7 separate regions of the Homo sapiens genome follow, and all the other regions are reported to be linked to region 4. The links are microRNA targets in miRTarBase. Many come from high-throughput screens and were not tested one by one. Region 4 holds a microRNA gene; each other region holds the end of a gene's coding sequence.

Region 1 (3,084 bases), not on the chromosome of region 4:
GGCACAAATTCCAGTTTCACTACTGCATTACCTTGGGCAACCCCTAGAAGCTTCAGTTTCATTTATTAAATGGGGAGAAAAACAGTGCCTAGCCCAAGAATGGTTATGACTGAAATCAAGTAGGAAAAGTGTGTCATGCAGTGTCTGGCTCAGAATAGATGCTCAGTAAATTTGAGATGGCAGGAGGAGTAGCATTTTCAACCTTTAATTCGCCAGTTCTTCAAGCATTATTTTTAATTCATAGTACAAAATAAAAATTATCTTACTTTTATATTACTAGCTTAGGTCACCAAATTATGTCACATTTCTAAGAAATCTGTGGAACTTCTAGGCTAGTTCTTAATGGATATCGTATTTTTTCCTCCAAATAGAATAGTTCTTACTGCTTTTAATAAGTTGAAGTAAGCATATAGTAGCACTACAGAATATTGCAGAATGACATAATGTTTTGGAAAAATATAGAAATCACTTATAAATGTTATTGTTCCGGCATTTTAAAAGCATGTTTTTCTTTTTTTTCCCCCTTTAGATTATGTTGAAATACAAAGATAAGAAGTGGTACCAGTTCTGACAACCAGAATCCAATAAGTCCAACTTCAGCCAGAAGGAAAAAAGTTTTCCATTTTTATTACATTCTTTAGGAAAGTTAACGTTAAAGGGATGTTCGTCACTGAATACTGTTCTTTCCTAGCACAGTCATGCACTGTTTTACCTCAGTCATGTGGCTTTAACTGAGGAGTGTTCACACGCACTCGAAATGGAGTATATGGTGTGTGCCAGTTATGAGTTGACCATTTGGGAATTAAACAGGTCACACGTGACAGATGAAGAAACCAAGGGGGCTGCTGAGGAGACCTGGTGCAGGGACTAATCCTGGATCATTCCTGTATTAAACTTTCATATGCCAAAAGGGTTTGTGCCGTTTTATCTGCCATCAGTGTTTGACCTGTTTAGGGCAGAGGCAATAAGTCAGAAGTCTTGAAGTTGAAATAGTTATATGTGTGTCATTGGACTGGATTATAAACAGCTGTCTTGGACTTTCCCTCTCTTAACACTGACTGGTCATCAGTATCATTAGTGAAAAAGAAACAAATTGTTTGTTATCATCTCTTTAGACAGATAAGCTGAATGGTGGGCTTTAAATAATAAAAACATACACATAGTTGACTTGTGTATGAGCTACTCTTGGATTCTTGTTATTATAGACTTGTATTTAGTTCATATTTTGTCAAAAGCAAAACAAGAAGATACATCACTTTTCATTGAAAAGAAAAGTGTAGAGCATGACTGAATTGCTCATCATTCTGGGAGTTTCCATGTAGTGGCTATGCAGTGTGGAAAGTGAGAAAAACCTCCATTGTGGTGAGGAGAATACTTCAATGTCCCTTGTCCTTGTTCTCATTAATTCAGCTAAAGGTGGATTTGACCAAAATAATGCTGGTTAAATTTGTAGAAATGTTGAAATTGGCTGTGTTTTAAATTTTGCTTGAATTTTTATAAAATGTTTAACCAAATGTACCTTTGCATTCTTTAATTAAAATTGCTTAAAAAAAAACTTTCATTATTTCAGTAAAATGCTCAGCTCCCTTTTCAAAATGCCCTTTATTTGCTAACTGTTCCAATACACTCAGGTGATGAGCCAATTAAATGTTAGTGCACATGCTATCGCATGGAAAATTACAAGCATCTGTTGTCAATAATTATATAAGAGTTTAGTCTGATGACCTACAAAATATTTTGTGTAGAAATATACTATAAATCTGTACATATCCTTTCAAGGTTTTAAAAAACCAAAAAGAAAGGAAAATATGTACACTGTGATAACTAAATTATTTCTGTATTGGAATATAATACAATTTGAGACCAGCAATGGACAATGAATGATTGTTTCATAGAATAGCATTACGGGCAGGAAAGAAACCACCTAGTAGATCTAGAAGTAAGCAATCTCAGAATACAGACTAATCTGAGATTATTATTGATTGTTGTTAAAGCAACCCAGCAAAAGCAAAATGGAAGCATTAAAATTAATGTTAATGAAATTTAAATATTGTCTTCTATAAAAAATTCCTTTAAATGATTTTGTTTTTTCATTAAGAGATAATCAGAGCACAAATTGATAGTAAACAGGATGGTTGTTTTTCTATTCTATATGATCATTAAAGGAATATGTAGGACATCTTAACTTTTTCATACAGTCTGTTATGCATATTTTCCTCTACTTTTCATTAATAAAGCTTTTATGTTTACATTTTATAACATGCACTACTAGATGCAAAAGTTTACATCAAAGTTTACTTTAAATATCATTTGGTAGGGACTAAATGTGTGTGATAGAGATAATTGATCAAGCCAAAAGAAATATTTTTTAAATAAGCCCTTTTCAAAAGTTTTTGAATTTATAGAAAGCACCAATGAATAACATATTTCTGTTTCGTTAATGTCAGCTGCCTGAACATTCAGCAGTTTATAAATTGCTTAATTTGTGTTATCTATTATCCAGTAAACCCATAGTTCCATGATATGTCACAGGAATTGTTAGGTCCTATTTTAAAGGTACAGTTTTGTGAATGTCATCAATAAAATCAACAGTTATGGATTTGAAGAAGTTGGGAAAGCATTATGTAGATTAATATACTGGTTGGTTCCCTATCTATGTGGAAGGTCATATTAGCTGCAATTATTTAATTTGCTGTGTTATTTTGTGTTATATAACACAAATATATTTGTATATTAACTTCATTTTTACTGTCATTTTTCCTGTTGTATACAAAATGAACTAATCTTGTAATTATTTTCAAATATAGAAGTATATACATTAGATGGATTTCCAAGATTTTGTAAGAAAATCTTAAATCAGTGTTTTGAGTTATTTAATTTTTAAATTAATCTACAAATTATGCACAACAAACTAGAGACTCAGTTAGGATTAGAAAGCTTAAAGTATGTTTGAGTGTAGGAAATAAGCTTCTCAGAGTTATACTTGATTCTGTCTGTAGATAAGAGACAGTCTACAGTAATAACTAACCCAGGGAATTTACTGTAATTTGAGAGGTAACATCTCTATTTTTTTCTTTTTAAATA
Region 2 (3,084 bases), not on the chromosome of region 4:
TGATATTTTATGTTTGCTTATCTCGGTGTATCCAACAAGTATTGATTTTTATTTTGAAGGAAAATTTGAGAATGGTGTTGCAGAAGGAATGGTGGATCCAAGTCTCAATCCCATTTCAGCCTTTCGACTTTCAGTTATTCAGAATTCTGCTGTTTGGGCCATTCTTAATGAGGTAAGCATATATCAAATCAGTGAAACAACTTAGAAACTACATTTTTATTATGTTTTTATTTTGTATTTAAGGCCTTTTTGGAATTGAGAATTAACAGCTTTATCATACCTTTTATGATTTTGTATTTCAGATTCATATTAAAAAAGCCACCAACTGATCATCTGAGAAACCAACACATTTTTTCCTGTGAATTTGTTAATTAAAGATAGTTAAGCATGTATCTTTTTTTTATTTCTACTTGAACACTACCTCTTGTGAAGTCTACTGTAGATAAGACGATTGTCATTTCCACTTGGAAAGTGAATCTCCCATAATAATTGTATTTGTTTGAAACTAAGCTGTCCTCAGATTTTAACTTGACTCAAACATTTTTCAATTATGACAGCCTGTTAATATGACTTGTACTATTTTGGTATTATACTAATACATAAGAGTTGTACATATTGTTACATTCTTTAAATTTGAGAAAAACTAATGTTACATACATTTTATGAAGGGGGTACTTTTGAGGTTCACTTATTTTACTATTATAGACCCTCTTTTATAGATTATCAGGGATTATATATATAAATATATAAATATACATAAAAATGTTATGGAATTAATTTATTAGAAACACTTAAGAAGTACATATTTTTGTGCAGTAGATTTTTGAATCGATACTTTTTTTGAAAACCAGTTTCCTTGCTTTTTTAAGTTCTTTCTATATTTTTCTTTGGAAATGCAAACATTACAAACCAATGCCATTTTTCAAATGCACTGCCATTTAAGATTGATTATAGATGGATTTCTTAATTGAAGTACTTTTATAATCACAGTGACTGAACAAAATATTTTCAAAGACATTTGTCATTCCTTAAAGCCAAGATTTTAAAGACTAATGTCCTTCCTGAGGGTTACTTTACTATACTGTGTATGGTGTATAGCCACAGAAAGTCAGTCTGATAAATTTTCAATGTGTAAGTGTGATGCATTCAACCCAGATTATTGTAGACTTAACTTATTATATTTCCTCTGATATGTAAAATGACAAACTCTTCTTTCCTTTTTAATCTTTGTCTTTAATCCATGAATTAGGTGCATTATCTGCTGTTGATTCTTTTATATCTGCACTCATTTTATGACGTCAGACAAAATGTTTTCTAGGTGTTGCTATTGTATGAGTCATAATTGGTATAATTTTAAAGAAAATTGTAATATTGTTTTTTGGTGAAATATATTATTAGTAGTATATTTTCCAAAATGATTTTATTGTAGTATGAACTGATAAGTGAGTCCCGTGTCCAAGAGACTGTATTTATTACTCTTAAACACGCTATTCCAAATGATATTACTACTATAAACAAAGAATATTACCGGTCTCAGCAATCAGTGATCTTTATAAAAGTACTTTTAAAAAATGATGAATTATCACCAGGCGCTGTGGCTCACGCCTGTAATCCCAGCACTTTGGGAGGCCGAGGCGGGCGGATCACGAGGTCAGGAGATCAAGACCATCCTGGCTAACACGGTGAAACCCTGTCTCTACTAAAAATACAAAAAATTAGCCAGGCGTGGTGGCAGGTGCCTGTAATCCCAGCTACTTGGGAGGCTGAGGCAGGAGAATGGCGTGAACCCAGGAGGCAGAGCTGGCAGTGAGCTGAGATCGCACCACTGCACTCCAGCCTGGGCGACACAGCTAGACTCCGTCTCAAAAAAAAAAAAAGATGAAGTATCAACATCAGTTCCCAGCCAGTCTGCTTGGACACACTGGGGTGCCACAAGTGGGTTGCAGGTTGGTTGCAGACGGGCAGAGATGGATTCTGCTGAGCTTTCAGAGTGACCACTGGCTGGGGCCTAGCGCTGGGGCAAGGTTCCAGCTGGCTGCCTCTAGCCTGGAGGAGCTTCATCTAGTTACCCAATGTGCTGAACCAACAGCATGAAATAGCATCATTTCCTGTGCTGTGTTACAAAGTGCAAACGTTTGGAAACACTGATACAGTACAATTATTTCCATCACTCCATGTTGTTATAATTTTTAGTTACTTTTCTTGATTGAAAAGTCAATCACATTGCCAAAAATGATTTTTATGTCAGTTAAAGGCCAGTTGAAATTTTTTTATTAGGATGTTTTAAATTTACTTTTCACTTTCTTGAATTTTTTTCTTCTCAAATTTCCTTGGCCCAGTGCCCATGAGCAAATTTCATTCAAAAACAGGAATAACCTTTTGTCATAAAATTTTGGCACCAGCTTGGTATACTAAATTACTGCAAAGATAACTGAGTACCAGAAGTAAAAATCTCTGCAGGTGGGCTTAGGAGTACTCTTGGGTCCCTGGTTCCTCAGTTGCCAACTCTGGTTTCATGAAGAAAGACCATGCTCTGAAAATCTAGGGAGGAGAAAGTTATTGCAGCACCTGGTGTGATTTGTTACAACTTCTTTAAAGACAGCCTGCCTGGCTAGCTTTTTCCTGTTTTCATGCAGTTTGCCCTCCCAGCATTGGTCCACCTGTTGTTCCCAAGAAACTCATTCTTGTTCCCAAGACTCCTTTTAGCCAAATCTTTCCTATCATTCCAGGACTTTTTTGTGCTTCTCTCCCCATGAATCTACCCGTGCCTAGGGTGTGTGCCAGGCACGTGGCAGGTGGCCAGTCAGCATCTGGATGTGAGACCAATTATTCCAGCCTGCCCTCCTCTTTCTCTTTTTATCATTTTGTATTATTTTTGAGACAGGGTCTCGCTTTGTTGCCCAGGCTGGAGTGCAGTGGTGCTCTCATAGCTCACTGCAGCCTCGATCTCTGGCCTCAAGCAATCCTCCTGCCTCAGCCTCCCAAAGTGCTGGGATTATAGGTGTGTGCCACCATGTCCAGCCCCCTTTCTCTCTCTTAACTCCCTCTCCCTGCTGTCGTTGCCATACTCTTGCATACACAATC
Region 3 (3,084 bases), not on the chromosome of region 4:
AACCTCAGGTGATCCACCGCCTCGGACTCCCAAAGTGCTGGGATTACAGGCGTGAGCCACCGTGCCTGGCTTCTACCTAAATTTTTTAGTACTTTGTATACTATCTTGTCCCTCTTTTTGTGCTTCCTCTTAAACTTATGCTAGCTTGGATAAAAATGTACTTTAGGAAGTCTCCTGACATGGGAGAAAACAATTTTGAAAGCTTCAACATACAACGTATTTTGTGCTTCATTTCAGAGTAAAATTTTTCCCAAGGTATTTTGTTTTTCTGGGACTATTGTTAGTGCATGTTGTTTTTCCTGTTTTATGCTTCTTTTCAACCTGTTTGGTTTTCACTAAGGGATTCCAATGGGTTTTTTTTCTATTAGCATAATTACCAATGTTGAATGTCACCTGGGCATAACTACTTTTCCTAACCCTGTCATACCATTGCTATCTCTTAGCATGTTTTCTCAAGTGAGAAAATGTCTTGACTGAATGGCCTTCTCTTCTTCATTTACTCATTCTCTATTCACTCTAGATTTATCAAATACCTGCTCTATGTGAGGCACAATACTAAGCACTCTGTACATACGTGTATTTTTTTTTTTTTGATGTTAGAGCTTCATCACTGCACCCTTTTTTTTTTTTTTCCCCACAAACAAGGTCTTGCTCTGTCAGTCAGTCTGGAGTGCAGTGGTGTGATCATGCTCACTGCAGCCTCGGACTTCTGGGCTCAAACAGTCCTCTTGCCTCTTCCTCCTAATTAGCTAGGACTACAGGTGTGCACCACCACACCTGGCTTTTTTTTTTTTTTTTCTTTTCGGAGAGACAAGGTCTTGCCAAGTTGCCCAGACTGGTCTTGAGCTCCTGGCCTCAAGAAATCCTCTCACCTCAGCCTCCCAAAGTGCTGGGGTTACTGGCGTGAGCCACCATGCCCAGTCTTCACCTTCTTTTGTAGTCCATCCCCTTCTACTATTCTCTTCCTGCTTTCCTTTCACTTCGACTTTTCCATTTCAGGCTTTTAATTCACTTGACCTCCCCCTACTGCCCTCTGCCACTTGCCTGCTGGGACTGCTGCCCATCATCCCTCTCAATGCTGCCTATCATCCCTCTCAATGCTGCCCATCATCCCTCTCAATGCTGCCCATCATCCCTTTCAATGCTGCCCAGGCCTCTAGCTCCTTCTCCTCCTTGAAATTGCAGGGGCCTGGGGGTGTTTGTACAGTGGCATTAGTGCAATGAGGTGGACTTAGTTAGATAAGTATGGGGAATGGGAGTTCCTTTACTCTTGCTCTGCTGGCTCCAACCCAGGGCAGCTGGCTAAAGCAGTCCTTAACCATGAGGATTTCTTCCAGGGTCATGCTTCCAGTTTTTAGTGAAGGATCACAAAAAATGTTTAGTGTCGTTCCATTGATTTTTTTCCCCCCTCGATTGAAGCTTTTTGAAATGTTTTTTGAACTGCCTTTTGTGTCAAACATGCCTTGTCTTAAAATGTCCTGTATTACTCTGTCCACACTGAATTACAGGCACACCTTTCTCTCAATTCAATGAGAGAGTTTTCAGTGTGATGTAAAGAATTGCTTTAGCTTTCTGCCAGGGGACTGTGTCTACCCTTATAGATGACTGTTTGAATTCAACATTTTGTATTAATAGTTGGGCATATTCATAGGTTATCAGAACTGGAAGGGACCTGAGGAATTATTTCACTTTCCTGTTTTACATGTGGAAACTCAAGGCTTAGATTGATGAATGCAAAGCTCGTTGTCACATGAATGAAAATCTAGGATTGGAATTTGAGTCTCCTAACCCCAAGCTTTTGTTGAATCAACTGATTTTCGATAGTGTTTATTCAGAGAAGAGATATGAATAAACAATGTCCTGTGAGATGATAAATTCTGTATTTTTTCAAGCACCTGGAATATTGATTCATGTCTCCCTAAAATATCTCAATGTTACTGAGACTAAGTGCCAGTGGTCAGGTATGCTTACTACACCAGTGATTGTCAGGTATTCTGCACAAAGGATATATTCGGCTGTTATTCACTTTTGTTATGCTTTTCCTCCTTTAAGAATTATCACTTTGCTTTTTCCCTCCTGGTCATAAAGAAATCATAGTTTTAGACCTTAAAGTGTGATTTTAATTGTCCTGTCATCTTGATGGAAATAATCTGATTTTCTTGACTCAGATTAGGAATTTTTGCTATCACCTTTTCTTAGCAAAATATGATTAATCAGCAAAGTTCTGTAGAATGAAGAATTACTTCTGTTTTCACCAGAAAACTCTTGAACTGTTCTAGTGAATTCAGTCCTATCCCAGGCTGATTCTAGATAGTTCATCTTTGGGTTAGATTATATGTCGGATGAGGAAATGGGTAGATTTGGGTGTGGGTCTAGGCCTGCGAGTGTTTGTGTGTGCATATACACATATAGAAGTAAAATAATTGTAGACGTGCTGCTTTTTGGGGGATGATCTTCATCAGGTCCACAAAGCTGCTTCACCATTTCCTGGAGAGATGGTCCTTTGGCCTTTCATAGTGGTAATTTTAGCTTTCCACATATTTCTGTAGATGAATGTATCCAGGCAGTGCATTGGTATGAGTTACCTTCTCCCTCCCACGTGGAGGAAGGTGTTGGAGGTGACAGTTCTCACGATGTGTAGCTTCCCACAGCCATTTTGGTAAATAGGCTTATCCATAGGCACTGTGGGGGCTTTAGTGGAAATCTTGGTGATGCCTGTAGATTTCGGTTTAGGGATCCGTGCTGGGATTCTCTGCTTGCATACCTCCTTGATCTTGAATTAAACAAGAGAACAAAAGGTAATTAATGGTACAGTTGGTGGAGAAGTAGAAATTGTTTAGGACATGGAGTCAGTTTGGAGGATTTGGCTTTGAAAGCACCAGTTTCTGGGGATGTATCAGATCAAAGATCGTCAGGTTGAAGAAAAGAATGTCAGTAAAGTAATCTGGTGTGTGTTGAATGTGTGCTGTGTGCACAGTTCTTGATAGAGATAGTGGTAGATACAGAGATGAATAGATATTTGGCAATCACGGTGTAGTAGGACATATACAAGAGTAGTGTCCCAAATTAATCTCAAAGAGCCAT
Region 4 (3,084 bases):
AGGGATTCTCCTGCCTCAGCCTCCTGAATAGCTGGGATTACAGGCGTGCACCACCACGCCCGGCTAATTTTTTATATTTTTAGTAGAGATGGGGTTTCGCCATGTTGGCCAGGCTGGTCTCAAACTCCTGACCTCAGGTGATCTGCCCGCCTTGGCCTCCCAAAGTGCTGGGATTACAGGTGTGAGCCACCGCGCCCGGCCGACATTGTCTGTTTTAAGGGAGGTATTCCTCAGCTCTTCGGTGATAAACTGCTGATGTATTGCACTGCCTGACAGTCACCAAGTTGGAACATGATAAATACTGCAGATGTGTAAGGCACAAAATGAGACTTATACAAAGTAGAGATGGAATCGCAAGAATTCCCAGGCCCTCTTTTTATTTACAGTGATACCAAACCATCCACTTGCAAATTCTTTGGTCTCCCATCAGCTGGAATTAAGTAGGTACTGTGTATCTTTGAGATCATGTATTTGTCTCCACTTTGGTGGATACAAGAAAGGAAGGCACGAACAGCTGAAAAAGAAGGGTATCACACCGCTCCAGCTGGAATCCAGCAGGAACCTCTGAGCATGCCACAGCTGAACACTTAAAAGAGGAAAGAAGGACAGCTGCTCTTCATTTATTTTGAAAGCAAATTCATTTGAAAGTGCATAAATGGTCATCATAAGTCAAACGTATCAATTAGACCTTCAACCTAGGAAACAAAATTTTTTTTTTCTATTTAATAATACACCACACTGAAATTATTTGCCAATGAATCCCAAAGATTTGGTACAAATAGTACAATTCGTATTTGCTTTCCTCTTTCCTTTCTTCAGACAAACACCAAATAAAATGCAGGTGAAAGAGATGAACCACGACTAGAGGCTGACTTAGAAATTTATGCTGACTCGATCTAAAAAAAATTATGTTGGTTAATGTTAATCTATCTAAAATAGAGCATTTTGGGAATGCTTTTCAAAGAAGGTCAAGTAACAGTCATACAGCTAGAAAAGTCCCTGAAAAAAAGAATTGTTAAGAAGTATAATAACCTTTTCAAAACCCACAATGCAGCTTAGTTTTCCTTTATTTATTTGTGGTCATGAAGACTATCCCCATTTCTCCATAAAATCCTCCCTCCATACTGCTGCATTATGGCACAAAAGACTCTAAGTGCCACCAGACAGAAGGACCAGAGTTTCTGATTATAAACAATGATGCTGGGTAATGTTTAAATGAGAACATTGGATATGGATGGTCAGATGAAAGATACCAAAATGTCAGACAGCCCATCGACTGGTGTTGCCATGAGATTCAACAGTCAACATCAGTCTGATAAGCTACCCGACAAGGTGGTACAGCCATGGAGATGTCACGATGGTAGGCAAAACAAGCAGACAGTCAGGCAGGATTTGATAAAAAAACAAAAACAAAAACAAACCAAAAAAACCCAGGCATTTCTGGCCTGTTAAGATCGAACCCCAATTCTATTCTATTCTGACATAATGCTCATAATGCTCCTAAAGGAAAAAAGTAAAATTGTTTATTTTCCTCCCAAGCAAAACAAAATGAACAAGTTCAATCAAAAACATCCCAATGGAAAAAAATCACACTAAGAATAAAACACTTACAGAACGGCAAGAAAACTGGGTTAACATATAAATTTGTGTCTGTTGAAACCAGAGTACATGCTAGAAAACATTAACACAGATACGACAGAGTGTGGTTTTTTTTTAGAAATGGGTAATTTCTCTCTCCAGTATCCTTTCACTTGTATGAGATATTTCTCCTCTCCTGTTTTCACAAACCAAGAAATCCCCAGGTAGGCCAATCCCAGAGGTGCCATTTAGCAGTATGCAGCAGCCCAGTTTCAGCATAACAAAACATGCCTTGGTAGTGGCTCTCTCATGCAAATAAAAGAAAGCTTAAGAAATTCTTGTTGTAGGTGGATTAGGCAAGGCTGCCATTCAGCTGGTATAAGCTAAAAGTAAAAAATCAAAACGCTCAAGAAAACGGACACAATTTTGGAATGATTAAAGATGTCTTTATAAAGTTTTTTTCAAGACTTCATTCTAAATACACAGAATAAAAAATGGTGTCAGCTCACTTGTAAGACACCAACCAGATTTTCCTTATACTGTCTCAAAATTTAAAGATCAATTTCCCCAGAGGGTGTGCAATGCATCATAAAATGGCCCTTTTTTGAGGATGGGAGAGGAAGGGTTGGGCAGGATGGAATATTAAATTGTAACATGATAAACATGCAAGACTGTTATCCAATCTAGATAATTTATATACATTTTGATGACTTAGGAAAACAAAGCAATCATTTGTGACAAGCCTAAAAAGCTTGACATATTTAACATACTTAGGAACTTTTTTTGTGCGGTGGGAATTCTCTAATTGTATCATGTGGGCCTTTTGAAAGTAACAAACAGAAGGCCAGTCTGTTGCAAGTTTGCTGCTGAACATCACATTCCACCCTAAGAAAACACAAGGTGGATTGCATCGAGGGTGGATACCTTACCTTAGCACAGAAGGAAAAAGTATGTCAGTGCAAAGTATGGACTAAACTGCTTTCAGGAAAAAAGTTGTAAAAATTGATACAGGTTGGAAAAGGGAATTTTCCTTCCCGGCTTGGAGTCCTCCCAATTTAAGGCAGAACCCATCCACTCCAATTTCTGCAGTTTAAAACTTTCTCTACTTATTTAGTTTTCTCCTCTGAGTTCAACCGCTGCTGGATTCGTTTGGCATAACTTTGTGCCATGGAGTTAATGATAGATAGGATGAAGTAACACACCATGACAACGACCAACTTTTCAAACATCCAGGACAACCAGTTTTCTCCCTGTAGAAATAAATGCAGAACAATGCAATGAAAAAGGCTTCATTAGTTCAGTAGTAAAAAGAGGATCATCTATAATGCTTGAAGTGTGTAACTTACAAAACCTAAAGAATTAAAAATGAAAAGTAAGCAACCCCAACTACTCTGAAATCTCCATTACTCTCCTTTTTACACCCAACTATCAAGATTTCACTTTGTTGGATGTAAAATCAGTGTTGAATCACATAGTTTAGAATGGGATGAGTGTGAGGTTAGCTCT
Region 5 (3,077 bases), not on the chromosome of region 4:
CAACTTCAGACTATGAGTGAGCAATGTCTTTTGGAATATTTCATTGGTGTATCACAGGCACAGTGCATGTATACTCATGCACACATAAAGGACAATTTTCTCTTTCTGCATCTATAATCTGCAACTTAAAAATATATCAAATAGGTCAACATTGACGCTATGGAGGTGTGAGGAGAACTCCTTGGCACCAGCATGACTAAAACCGCTTTTTAGACCATTAAAGAACATTCATGGCCAAAGACTTCAGAACTATGGTTACCTTTTTTTTTTGAGATGGAGTCTCGCTCTGTCACCCAGGCTGGAGTGCAGTGATGTGATCTTGGCTCACTGCAACCTCTGCCTCCTGAGAAACTGGGACTACAGGTATGTGCCACCATGCCCGGCTCCTTTTTGTATTTTTAGCAGAGACAGGGTTTCACCATGTTGGTCAGGCTGGTCTCAAACTCCTGACCTCATGATCTGCCCACCTCGGCCTCCCAAAGTGCTGGGATTACAGGTGTGAGCCACTGCACCTGGCAGCTATTTTGTTTTCTACTCTGATTTCTGAAATGGTGAAACAATCCTATTAATCATAATTTTTTTTTAATTTCAGCAGAGCTCTGTTACAGATATGAAAACAAAATGTGACACAATGAAGAAGCTGCATAAAAATACTGAAACCTAAGGTATCTGTAGTATATAGGATGTACCCTGGCTTACCATAGAAAAGTCTTTAGATAGTAAATAGCACTAAGTCTAAAAGCAAGGAGATAAGATTTCATGTTGGATACTGTTTCAAGAACTGTATTTGGAATATTAAAGGAAATCCTTATGTTAGTAAGTTTAAAAAACCAAACATCATATACAAAATAAAATTTTAGTATGATAAAACCTAGCTTTTCTTATTTTTTAAAAGGACATCAAACTATATAATTGCTCAAGAGCAAAGTTTAGTGTTTTGGTGAGCTGTATTTCATGTTACTTGTAGCAATTATATTTGGTGACATGGATCGCATTTTCCATTTTGCTCTTTCTTTTGGGACCATATCTAATCAACAGAAGTACTGGAAGCCCAATGAGTCACCGCAGAATTAATTGCTGGAGTCAGGCAAATGGCAGTTTAGGAGCTTCAGTAAAAGAATTGTAGTGTTTTTTACAAGAGAAAATCCAGTATAATTGCACATTTACATACAAAAAAAAGAGGCACAAAACAGATTTTCACCCTCTTTCCATAGAAGAGCTCTAAATTGATAAGCAAATGGAACACTCAATACAGCTGAAGGAATGTGGTAGAGCATCTACCCTCCCTACCTTCATAAGGTTACTAGGTACTTGAGGGAAAATAAATGCTACCAGGTACCAGCAATTGTAAGCAGTCAAAATTCACAGAGAAAGTTAACATTCATTCAAGCTAACCCTAGACTTCTACTTAGTACAGTGTTACAACAATGTCTGACATTACTAATTATTTTCATACAAGGAATACTGGAATATACATATTCCTAAGCATTAAAAGCAAGTGAGTTTGGTGAGCAGACATCTTGGTATACTCGCATCTATAAGAGTCAAGCATCACCATCAACCATTTTTGCTAACACTGACTTTCTTGGGAGTTTTCTCCAAGTGCTTCCTAAGATGAAGTGTGTTTGTGTGGCTCTTATGCACCCTGTAAAAGTAGAAGTTCTTCCCCTTACTCAATGGGAGCAATCTTAAGTACTGGATAATAATAGAAATTCTTTACATGTAACCTGGGGATGCCCCTACTACTTTCACCCCCCAAATTAGGAACTCAACCAAAAAGATCTATTCAAATACAATTCAAACTCACTTGTGTGGTTTTACCAGGAAACATGACTGAATGGTCAGATGACAAAAGAAATGTTTGAGTAGGAGAGGAAAACAGAGACAAAAAATAAAATGCCTGTAATTCTCTCCAATTAAGACCAGGGTCTACAATAAAATTGGACAGAAAATGGTGCTTATATGATCCAAATTTTGGTTTATGCCTTCATCCCCCTTTAGCTGCCTTAATCAGTGTCAGGAAAATAGGAGTGACCATTCCAACTATGCTTCATATCCACAGAAACGCACTTCATCCAAAACCCAAACCATCCATGTCAATGGAAAACGTTTTAAAAATCAGTGAGCACATCCATTCCTTTTTTTCCTTCCACCAAGGAAACACACCATATACCCTTCTAGGTAAAGTTACCATAGTACAAAGCCCACCTTGTTTAAGACCACAGAGGTAAAATCCACCGAGGCATTGTTTTCAAGAGGCCAGATTTAATACTTCCATAGAGCCCTTCTCTAAGCCTATGAAAAGCATTTTGAAGGGAAAGAGAAGTGAGCCTACCTACTGCTCAGTAAAGAGGTATATAAAGCTTATCATACCCTTTCCTAGAGGGCTTTCTCAGATTCCTACTTAAAACACACACACACTTGATTAGACTATTGAACTACACTTCTTGAAATTCCTAAAAATGAAAATAAATAAAGGAATGATGGCTACTTTTGCTTTATACAACCAAGGAACACATCTTAGACTTTAAATTTATCTCATTAACAAAACTTACTTTTCTCTTTGTTCTTATTTTAACAGCAAAAACATTTCTTTTTCAAGCTGCAATGGCACTGAAGCACAATAAAAGGCAAGAAAAGACCAAGGGAATTTAACCCTCCACAAAAGAATCCCAAACCAACCAAATCAAACAAAAACCAGACACCACCAACTGCTTCTGCCTGCATGAACTGGTTTCCCATTTTTGCTTTAATAAGGCAGTTCCGATGGCAAAGGCTGTATGCACTGTAGCAGTCTCTTCTTTTTAAATGCATGATCTATTTGCTTTTTTCACTTAAATAGAAAGGAGGGGACACCACACATTTATTCTTTTACTTCTTCTCCATGATCTTGTGATTCCCATTTACATTTTATCTTGCTCCAGTATTCTGGTGACACAGGAGCCATGGGGTCATGTTCCGAGCAGCAGAGGCGGCCTTCCAGTGCAGAGGGAACCAGGGCCCCCTTTTCATGATCTTTACAAAATGAATGTGGACAGAATTCACAGAAGGAAACAGCTGCACTGCTGCACTCATCG
Region 6 (3,084 bases), not on the chromosome of region 4:
TAATGAAACTTCTTGTTTTCTGTTTCATTTTAAAAGTAGATTGTTTGGGAATGCTAACGTTGCTTTGGGTTTTCTACTTTTTTTAATGCAGCTTTCAAAACGTCCTAGTTGCCGTCACTCACCCCAGCCCACCCCACTGCTTGAAAGTTGAGCCATGTGATGTTTCTAGTGCCCCATGATCTCTTCTGATGTGTGTTTGGTTTTGATGCTGAGCAGTCATGTTTTATAGTCTGGGTTTTGTTTCTCTCCTAAATCCACCATCTCCTTGTTCTGCCGGCCAATTCTCACCTCTCTATTTTCTCATCCTCCTTTTCCTTCCCCTGGTATAGATCAAAGTGGTCAAAGCGTTCCATAGTTCCCTCCACGAAAGCATTCAGAAACCCTACAACCAAAAGTCCATCCACAGCTTCATGACCCACCCTGAATTCGCCATAGAGGAGGAGTTGCCACGAACACCACTCCTGGATGAGGAAGAGGAGGAAAATCCTGACAAGGCTTCTAAGTTTGGGACTAGGGTGCTCCTGTTGGATGGTGAGGTCACTCCATATGCCAATACAAACAACAATGCGGTGGATTGCAACCAAGTGCAGCTCCCCCAGTCGGACAGCTCTCTACAGAGCCTAGAGACATCAGTTTGAATTTTCTTTCTCTGACTCTCATCCCTATTTTACCTATTTCCATTTTCGTCTATCCCATCTATGAGGTGATGATGGGACTTTTCATTGTCACGTCAGCTGCTGTGTTAACAGCAGTGTGTGTGAAGTGAACCTCTACCTGACCATGAAGAGGCAAGAGCACAGACTTACAAGGATTTCAACTTAAGCTTGACTTGGGGTTTGTAGCGGGACCCAGTCAAACCCCATTCAGGTCATGGTAGAATCTACTCCTTGGTAGTCACTTGTCATTTTTAAAGAAATGATGACAATCCTCTTGGCATCACCCCACCCCACATTCTCCCCGATGTTCCTCTCCTGAATTCTGGATTTTGTCCTACAAGTCTGTGCCATTTATAAGCTAAGTTGAGGGTTCAGAGGGAGACAAATATCCCCAAGTGAAATATGTTGCGGTAGAGATGGAATGTATAAAATCCGCCAGTAGTGTGATTGTTTTTCAATTTTTCCCACTTTGAAAACTTACACCTAAAGGCCTGTAGGCCTCTAACTCTTTCTGCCCTTTCATTCAAACCTCTCCAAAGTTCTTTGTCTTTTGTCTTCCCTTCCTTTCCTTTTTTTTTTTTTTTTTTATGATGATTAAGAAAATGGAAAGGATATGGATGAATTGTGTAAACTTAGATCCTTCTCCCTTTTGGCCCAAAAGAACCCTTGATTTAGTTCCAGAATCCAACCAGTTTCTTTGTTAAAAGGGTCCTTTTGAAGCAATTAAGTGCTGGTAAGAATATTTCTCTGTTGTTGCCAGGTTACCTTCTGCTTTTAAATTGCCATCTTGTAAAGTGTATGTGGTTCTTAAGTGCCAGGGAGATCAGCCTTGCCCATGAAGGTTGCATATGTGTGGTATACAGTTTTTACCTGAAAGCCTGAGCTTTCTCTTATTCCTAAAGTGGTGGCAAAAGAATGAACTGGGTATGACCCTGCCCCCTTACTGGGCTTGGATATTGAGGACCAGACGCTGCCAAATCTAGGACAAGACAGACCATCAAAGCAGACTTTTGTGGGCTCCTCTTTGGGGTGACCACTGCTTTCAAAGCCATCTGCCAAGGCTCTCCAGGGCAGGACCTGACTGGTGGGGAATGAGTGTTCAGAAGCCTTGGGAGAGGCCAAAGAGCCATTCTAGCATGATCTGAGAAAACCTTCCTGCAGAGGCCAGAAACCTTGAGCTTAGGTGCCTGGGGACCAGCTTCGACATTCTCTCCAGTTTCTGATTCTAATTTTTGCCACGTGTCACAACTTTTCCAGTCTCTGAGAAGGTCCCAGCCTTTCTCAAATATTCTGATTTTGAAAATATGTATCCAAAGTGGGAGGCCCCTGTGACATTTTGCCAACTTAAACGAGAAAAAGACCCCCCGCACCCGGCACACTCCCCCTTCCTCCAGCCCCGCTTCAGCCACATGCTCCAGCTGCTGCCCAGTAAAGCCCTGTGCCTTTTTTTCCCCTGAATACTGCCCAAAGCATCCCCTTCCCATCTGCCTCTCAGGAGTTGGGGACTTTGCTAGGAGATTTTTTAAGTGTTCCTTACTGGGACAACGTGGAGCCACGTTTGCAGGAGCTCCATTTGTATCCCTGCTGGTGTTGACTTCTGTGTAGGGGCCAGTTCATGTCCCTGACTCTCACCTCCCATTAGATAAATGAAGCCCACCCCCCTTTCTAGAGTGATGAGAGTCAAGAAGAGGGGATGTATGAACGGCCAAATTCCCATGTGAGAGGAAGATGACCTGATCCACCTAGCCTTTTCTTCTGGATCTGTCCTCCCTCACCCCTTTCACCTGAGCTGTCCACAGTAGGAAACATAAAGAAACAATGTCCCCTACATATCCCCATGACTACATAATCCATCATCGTAGGAAATAGGAAAGCAAATTTGATTTTGGTTTTGTAAAACGTACATGCTTCAATAATTCTTTTTTGTGTCTTAAATACTCATAGGGGAAAAAAACAGCTCACCCAAGGTGTTAGGTTTCACATATATATTCATCAACTATTTTAGAAGATTTAATTCTATCAAATCTTGTATTACCTCAGATCATTTTAAATAGCAAGCCAATAACGAGCTTTGAAGGCTATTTTACCATTCCTGTTCACAAAAGGTTCTCATGGTGCCTGACAGGTTACCCTTGAGGGCTTGTGTCTACTTTTTAAAAGTCAATGGTTTTTTTTCTTGTGTTCTAGTTTCCATAATAGGAGAGAAAATATAGAAATATATGCAAAAATTATAGTTTTCTTTAGATCAGAAACTGATATTTTTGGGTCAGCCATATGTATTTTGTTTAAAGGATTTAAAATAAAGTGCCGTCATGTAGCCCTGTGGAAGGGAGCACATAACCAGCTGTTTGGCATGACAGGTGACTTAGTATATTTGTAATTGGTTTTAAAACCAATACACCATACTTTCTTTCTGCAAACAGCCATC
Region 7 (3,084 bases), not on the chromosome of region 4:
AGAAAAAAGACACTTAACATACAGAGGAGCAAAGATTAGAGTGACTGTAGACTTCTTGTCAGAAACAATGCAACAACCCAGGAGGTAACAGCACAACCACATCTTTAAACCTAGAATTTTATACCCAGCAAAAGTATCTTTCAAACATAAAGATTTAAAATCTTTCTCAATAGGGTAGGCCTACACACCTTGCTAAAAGGATTTTGGATTTTTATCTTCAAAGTGCTAGTAAGCCACTGATGGATTCTAAATGATGAGACTTACATTTCAGAAAAGACATATTACATTTTTGAGATGAGTGGGTTAGGTGTGGGGGAAAGAGGAATCAAGCATACATAAGAGCAGAGATAGCAGAAACTTGCTCAAAAAACAAAGGATGCTGACTTAAATAAGAGCAGTGGCAGTGGGGAGGAAGAAGAGTGGACTGATGAGAAAGATATCTAGAAGATAATTATTCAAAGACTCAGTGATTGATTGGATGTGAGGTATGAGGAAGAAAAATGAGTCAAGAATCATTCCTAAGTTTCTGATATGATTAACTATACTTACACATAATTTTACCCACCTGAAAAATAATTTAAACCAATATACACCATCAAAACCACAACTGAAGCAATCCACACAATTGAATTAATATACTCTAAACACTGCTTTTAAACTAAGAATTAACTGTGTAAAAGTTGTACATAAAAATAGAACAGCATTTTTGTAGAAGAAAAAGATGAAGGCATCAGTTTTCATTTGAAATCTGCAGTGAGCTCAATTTTGGATTTGAGATCACTGCTACTGTTCCCTATGGAAACAGTAAAAGCATGGTTTCTATGAACCATCTGTTGAGATGCTGAAGTGCTTCTACAGAACACTGCCTTCTAAAGGTTTATCACTATAATGGAGTTTTGCCATTTAAAAAATTATAACTCATGTATAAAAGGCTGCATATTTTTGGTAATCAACTTCTAGTTCAGCAACCTTGCTTTCCATGTTTCTATCTTCACAGTTAGGAATTATCAGTGAGATTTTTTTTAAGGACTTTAAATAGTAGTAACACATTTATTGTAGATTTGCTGAGTACTAAATACTTTACACTGTGCAAGTACCTTACATGACAACCTCATTTAATCTTAACAACCTTATTATGTAGTTATTATCCCCACTTGTAGTTATTATCCCCATAAATGGGTTAACAAGTGAGAAAATTGATATACAAAGAGCTAATATGTGGCAGGGCCAAAGATTTGAACCCAGAAAGGTCTGACCTCAATCCCTGGACTCTTCAGAGATCCACCTCTAAACCTCACAAATATTCCTGCTTATTAGAAAATGTGCAACTGATCCTCTGATTTTAAATGAATACATGCTTTACATGTAATAACCAAGTTTCTAAATTATGTTTATTTAAAACTTCACAAAACCTTATCATTAAAATGTTCAAGCTTTCAATTTGCCTCAAAGAGATTCTTGCAAATTAGCCAGGTGTGGTGGCGGGCACCTGTAATCCCAGCTACTCGGGAGGCTGAGGCAGGAGAATCACTTGAACCCAGGAGGCAGAGGTTGCAGTGAGCCAAGATGGTGCCACTGCACTCTAGCCTGGGCAACAAAGTGAGACTCTGCCTCAAAAAAAAAAAAAAAAAAAAAAAAAAGAGAGATTCTTCAAAGCAGGTAACTTAATGAGCAAGAATTATAAGTAGACTATTAGAGCTTTCATTAACATATGTATATGCATGTGTATAACAGGATGCTGCATTACAGAACCTGTATCATCAGAGGCATGGCATGGCCGATTATAGACACTGAGGACCTGAAAATGTACGGAGGGTTTAATACATTAAGTTGCACAACTGATAAACTATCAATGATGCTTGTGATAGGACACATAGCACTGTGTTAGGAACCACAACTCAGATGATCTATATGGAAACAATGCTTCCATGGCTTCCACATAGAACGTGGAAACCATGTTGTATGATGGAAATGGATGAGTAGGCATATACTTAAATTTTTCATGCTGAATTACATGGCATATTGTATGCATGCATCGTTTGCCAACAACTATACAGTTATTAACCCAAAATCGTAAACGAACAAAACATTTCTCCACAGTTTAACAGAAACTCACAGTTTAAAAGTTAATTTTCTTCCTTCAACAACAAAGAAAACCTAGAAACTGAAAGTCTCCAGTAAAGTTCTTTTATTCGGATTTAACCTAAAATAGTTCGCTTGATCTCTCTTTGATAGAGAAATGAAATCTCCAGTTCTATAGACTATAATGGAAAAGTATTGAATTTGCATATTTCCAATAAAAGATATTTGCTTCATGCTTTGGGCATCTATCATAGTTGCCCAAAAGACTATGTCCAGTAAACATAACTGTCACAGTACTGAAGCGCAAACTTACAAAATTGTCTTTGTGTTACCACAACACACACAGTCTTTAGTCAGCTGACTATTCATGTTGTTTGAAAAGCATGAAAATACAGGTTTTTAGCATGCACACCCAGTTGGAAAAGGACTTGCTCCTCCGGAAACACCATTCATTCGCTTTGGCAGAGCTGAGAGCACCTGTGCATGTGAACAAGCAGGTGGGTATCTCACTGGTTTCTGCAGTCATCACTTTCCTTGATAGGTAAGTTTTGATACCAGCCAGGGGAGAGTCCAGGCATTTACTCAGCTTATGATTTAATTTTCCACAGCTAAGAGAACAAAATCACCAAAATAAGTTAGTTCTAGGAAAACCAGGTGGGATTTATAGGTACACTTACATGACTATAAACTAAGAATCCTTTATAAAAGAAGAAAATGTATCAAGTCTGGCAATAGCAACCATAGAACATCATAGAGAAAAAACATTTAAAACTTCCAGGATCAAAAATAATACAATGCAGTTCATGTACTGGTTTTCATTCATTCTACATCTGTACATTCCCCAGGATCAGAGTAAGACCATTACCCAGCTCAGGCTATTAAACTGATATGAAATTCAAACTTGATTTTTTTTGTTCCATTCAAGAGCACTGTCTGTTATATTTGTGTAAAATGAGAAAACTGAAGCTGAAAAGCCTGTGGACCACCAATCAAAATGCCTAT

What was found. The annotated mature microRNA hsa-miR-21-5p reads UAGCUUAUCAGACUGAUGUUGA and lies in region 4 at 1,302-1,323, opposite strand. An mRNA with a match to its seed (bases 2 to 7 or 8) in the 3' UTR can be bound and repressed. Matches are read on the target gene's strand: a 7mer-m8 pairs with bases 2 to 8, a 7mer-A1 pairs with bases 2 to 7 and ends in A, and an 8mer does both.
Region 1: the mRNA of STXBP5 is a reported target of hsa-miR-21-5p. Seed matches in the 3' UTR shown: 7mer-m8 at 1,120-1,126 and 7mer-m8 at 2,963-2,969.
Region 2: the mRNA of MGAT4A is a reported target of hsa-miR-21-5p. The part of its 3' UTR that is shown has no 7-base or 8-base seed match.
Region 3: the mRNA of FILIP1L is a reported target of hsa-miR-21-5p. The part of its 3' UTR that is shown has no 7-base or 8-base seed match.
Region 5: miRTarBase lists NSD3 as a target of hsa-miR-21-5p. Seed matches in the 3' UTR shown: 7mer-m8 at 2,362-2,368.
Region 6: the mRNA of ATP2B4 is a reported target of hsa-miR-21-5p. Seed matches in the 3' UTR shown: 8mer at 1,010-1,017.
Region 7: the mRNA of PHTF1 is a reported target of hsa-miR-21-5p. The part of its 3' UTR that is shown has no 7-base or 8-base seed match.

The regions. Positions count from the first base shown.
Region 1 is chr6:147,384,185-147,387,268 of GRCh38, forward strand. STXBP5 (syntaxin binding protein 5) reads left to right here. Exons shown (of 28, transcript NM_001127715.4): 28 at 530-3,084. The coding sequence ends at 571. Among named protein-coding and RNA genes, the nearest start is that of SAMD5, 120 kb to the right of the region's middle.
Region 2 is chr2:98,622,811-98,625,894 of GRCh38, reverse strand. It overlaps MGAT4A (alpha-1,3-mannosyl-glycoprotein 4-beta-N-acetylglucosaminyltransferase A), which reads left to right. Exons shown (of 16, transcript NM_012214.3): 15 at 60-172; 16 at 303-3,084. The coding sequence ends at 329. Among named protein-coding and RNA genes, the nearest start is that of UNC50, 16 kb to the right of the region's middle.
Region 3 is chr3:99,827,833-99,830,916 of GRCh38, forward strand. FILIP1L (filamin A interacting protein 1 like) reads right to left here. Exons shown (of 6, transcript NM_001387850.1): 6 at 979-2,773. The coding sequence ends at 2,582. All of the region lies in intron 1 of CMSS1 (cms1 ribosomal small subunit homolog), which reads left to right. The region is part of intron 1 of LOC105374010 (a long non-coding RNA gene); the gene reads left to right. Among named protein-coding and RNA genes, the nearest start is that of HP09053, 5.5 kb to the left of the region's middle.
Region 4 is chr17:59,839,512-59,842,595 of GRCh38, reverse strand. It overlaps MIR21 (microRNA 21), which reads right to left and starts at 1,330; the gene lies at 1,259-1,330. VMP1 (vacuole membrane protein 1) reads right to left here. Exons shown (of 12, transcript NM_030938.5): 12 at 341-2,828. The coding sequence ends at 2,685. RefSeq lists a silencer at 75-269 and enhancers at 1,555-2,284, 3,008-3,084.
Region 5 is chr8:38,272,778-38,275,854 of GRCh38, forward strand. NSD3 (nuclear receptor binding SET domain protein 3) reads right to left here. Exons shown (of 24, transcript NM_023034.2): 24 at 1-3,077. The coding sequence ends at 2,864. It also overlaps a transcript of DDHD2 not described here. Among named protein-coding and RNA genes, the nearest start is that of PLPP5, 5.1 kb to the left of the region's middle.
Region 6 is chr1:203,739,217-203,742,300 of GRCh38, forward strand. ATP2B4 (ATPase plasma membrane Ca2+ transporting 4) reads left to right here. Exons shown (of 21, transcript NM_001684.5): 21 at 330-3,084. The coding sequence ends at 638. The region is part of intron 1 of LOC102723543 (a long non-coding RNA gene); the gene reads right to left. Among named protein-coding and RNA genes, the nearest start is that of LINC00260, 10 kb to the left of the region's middle.
Region 7 is chr1:113,695,036-113,698,119 of GRCh38, forward strand. PHTF1 (putative homeodomain transcription factor 1) reads right to left here. Exons shown (of 19, transcript NM_001323043.2): 19 at 1,796-2,690. The coding sequence ends at 2,670. Among named protein-coding and RNA genes, the nearest start is that of PHTF1, 63 kb to the right of the region's middle.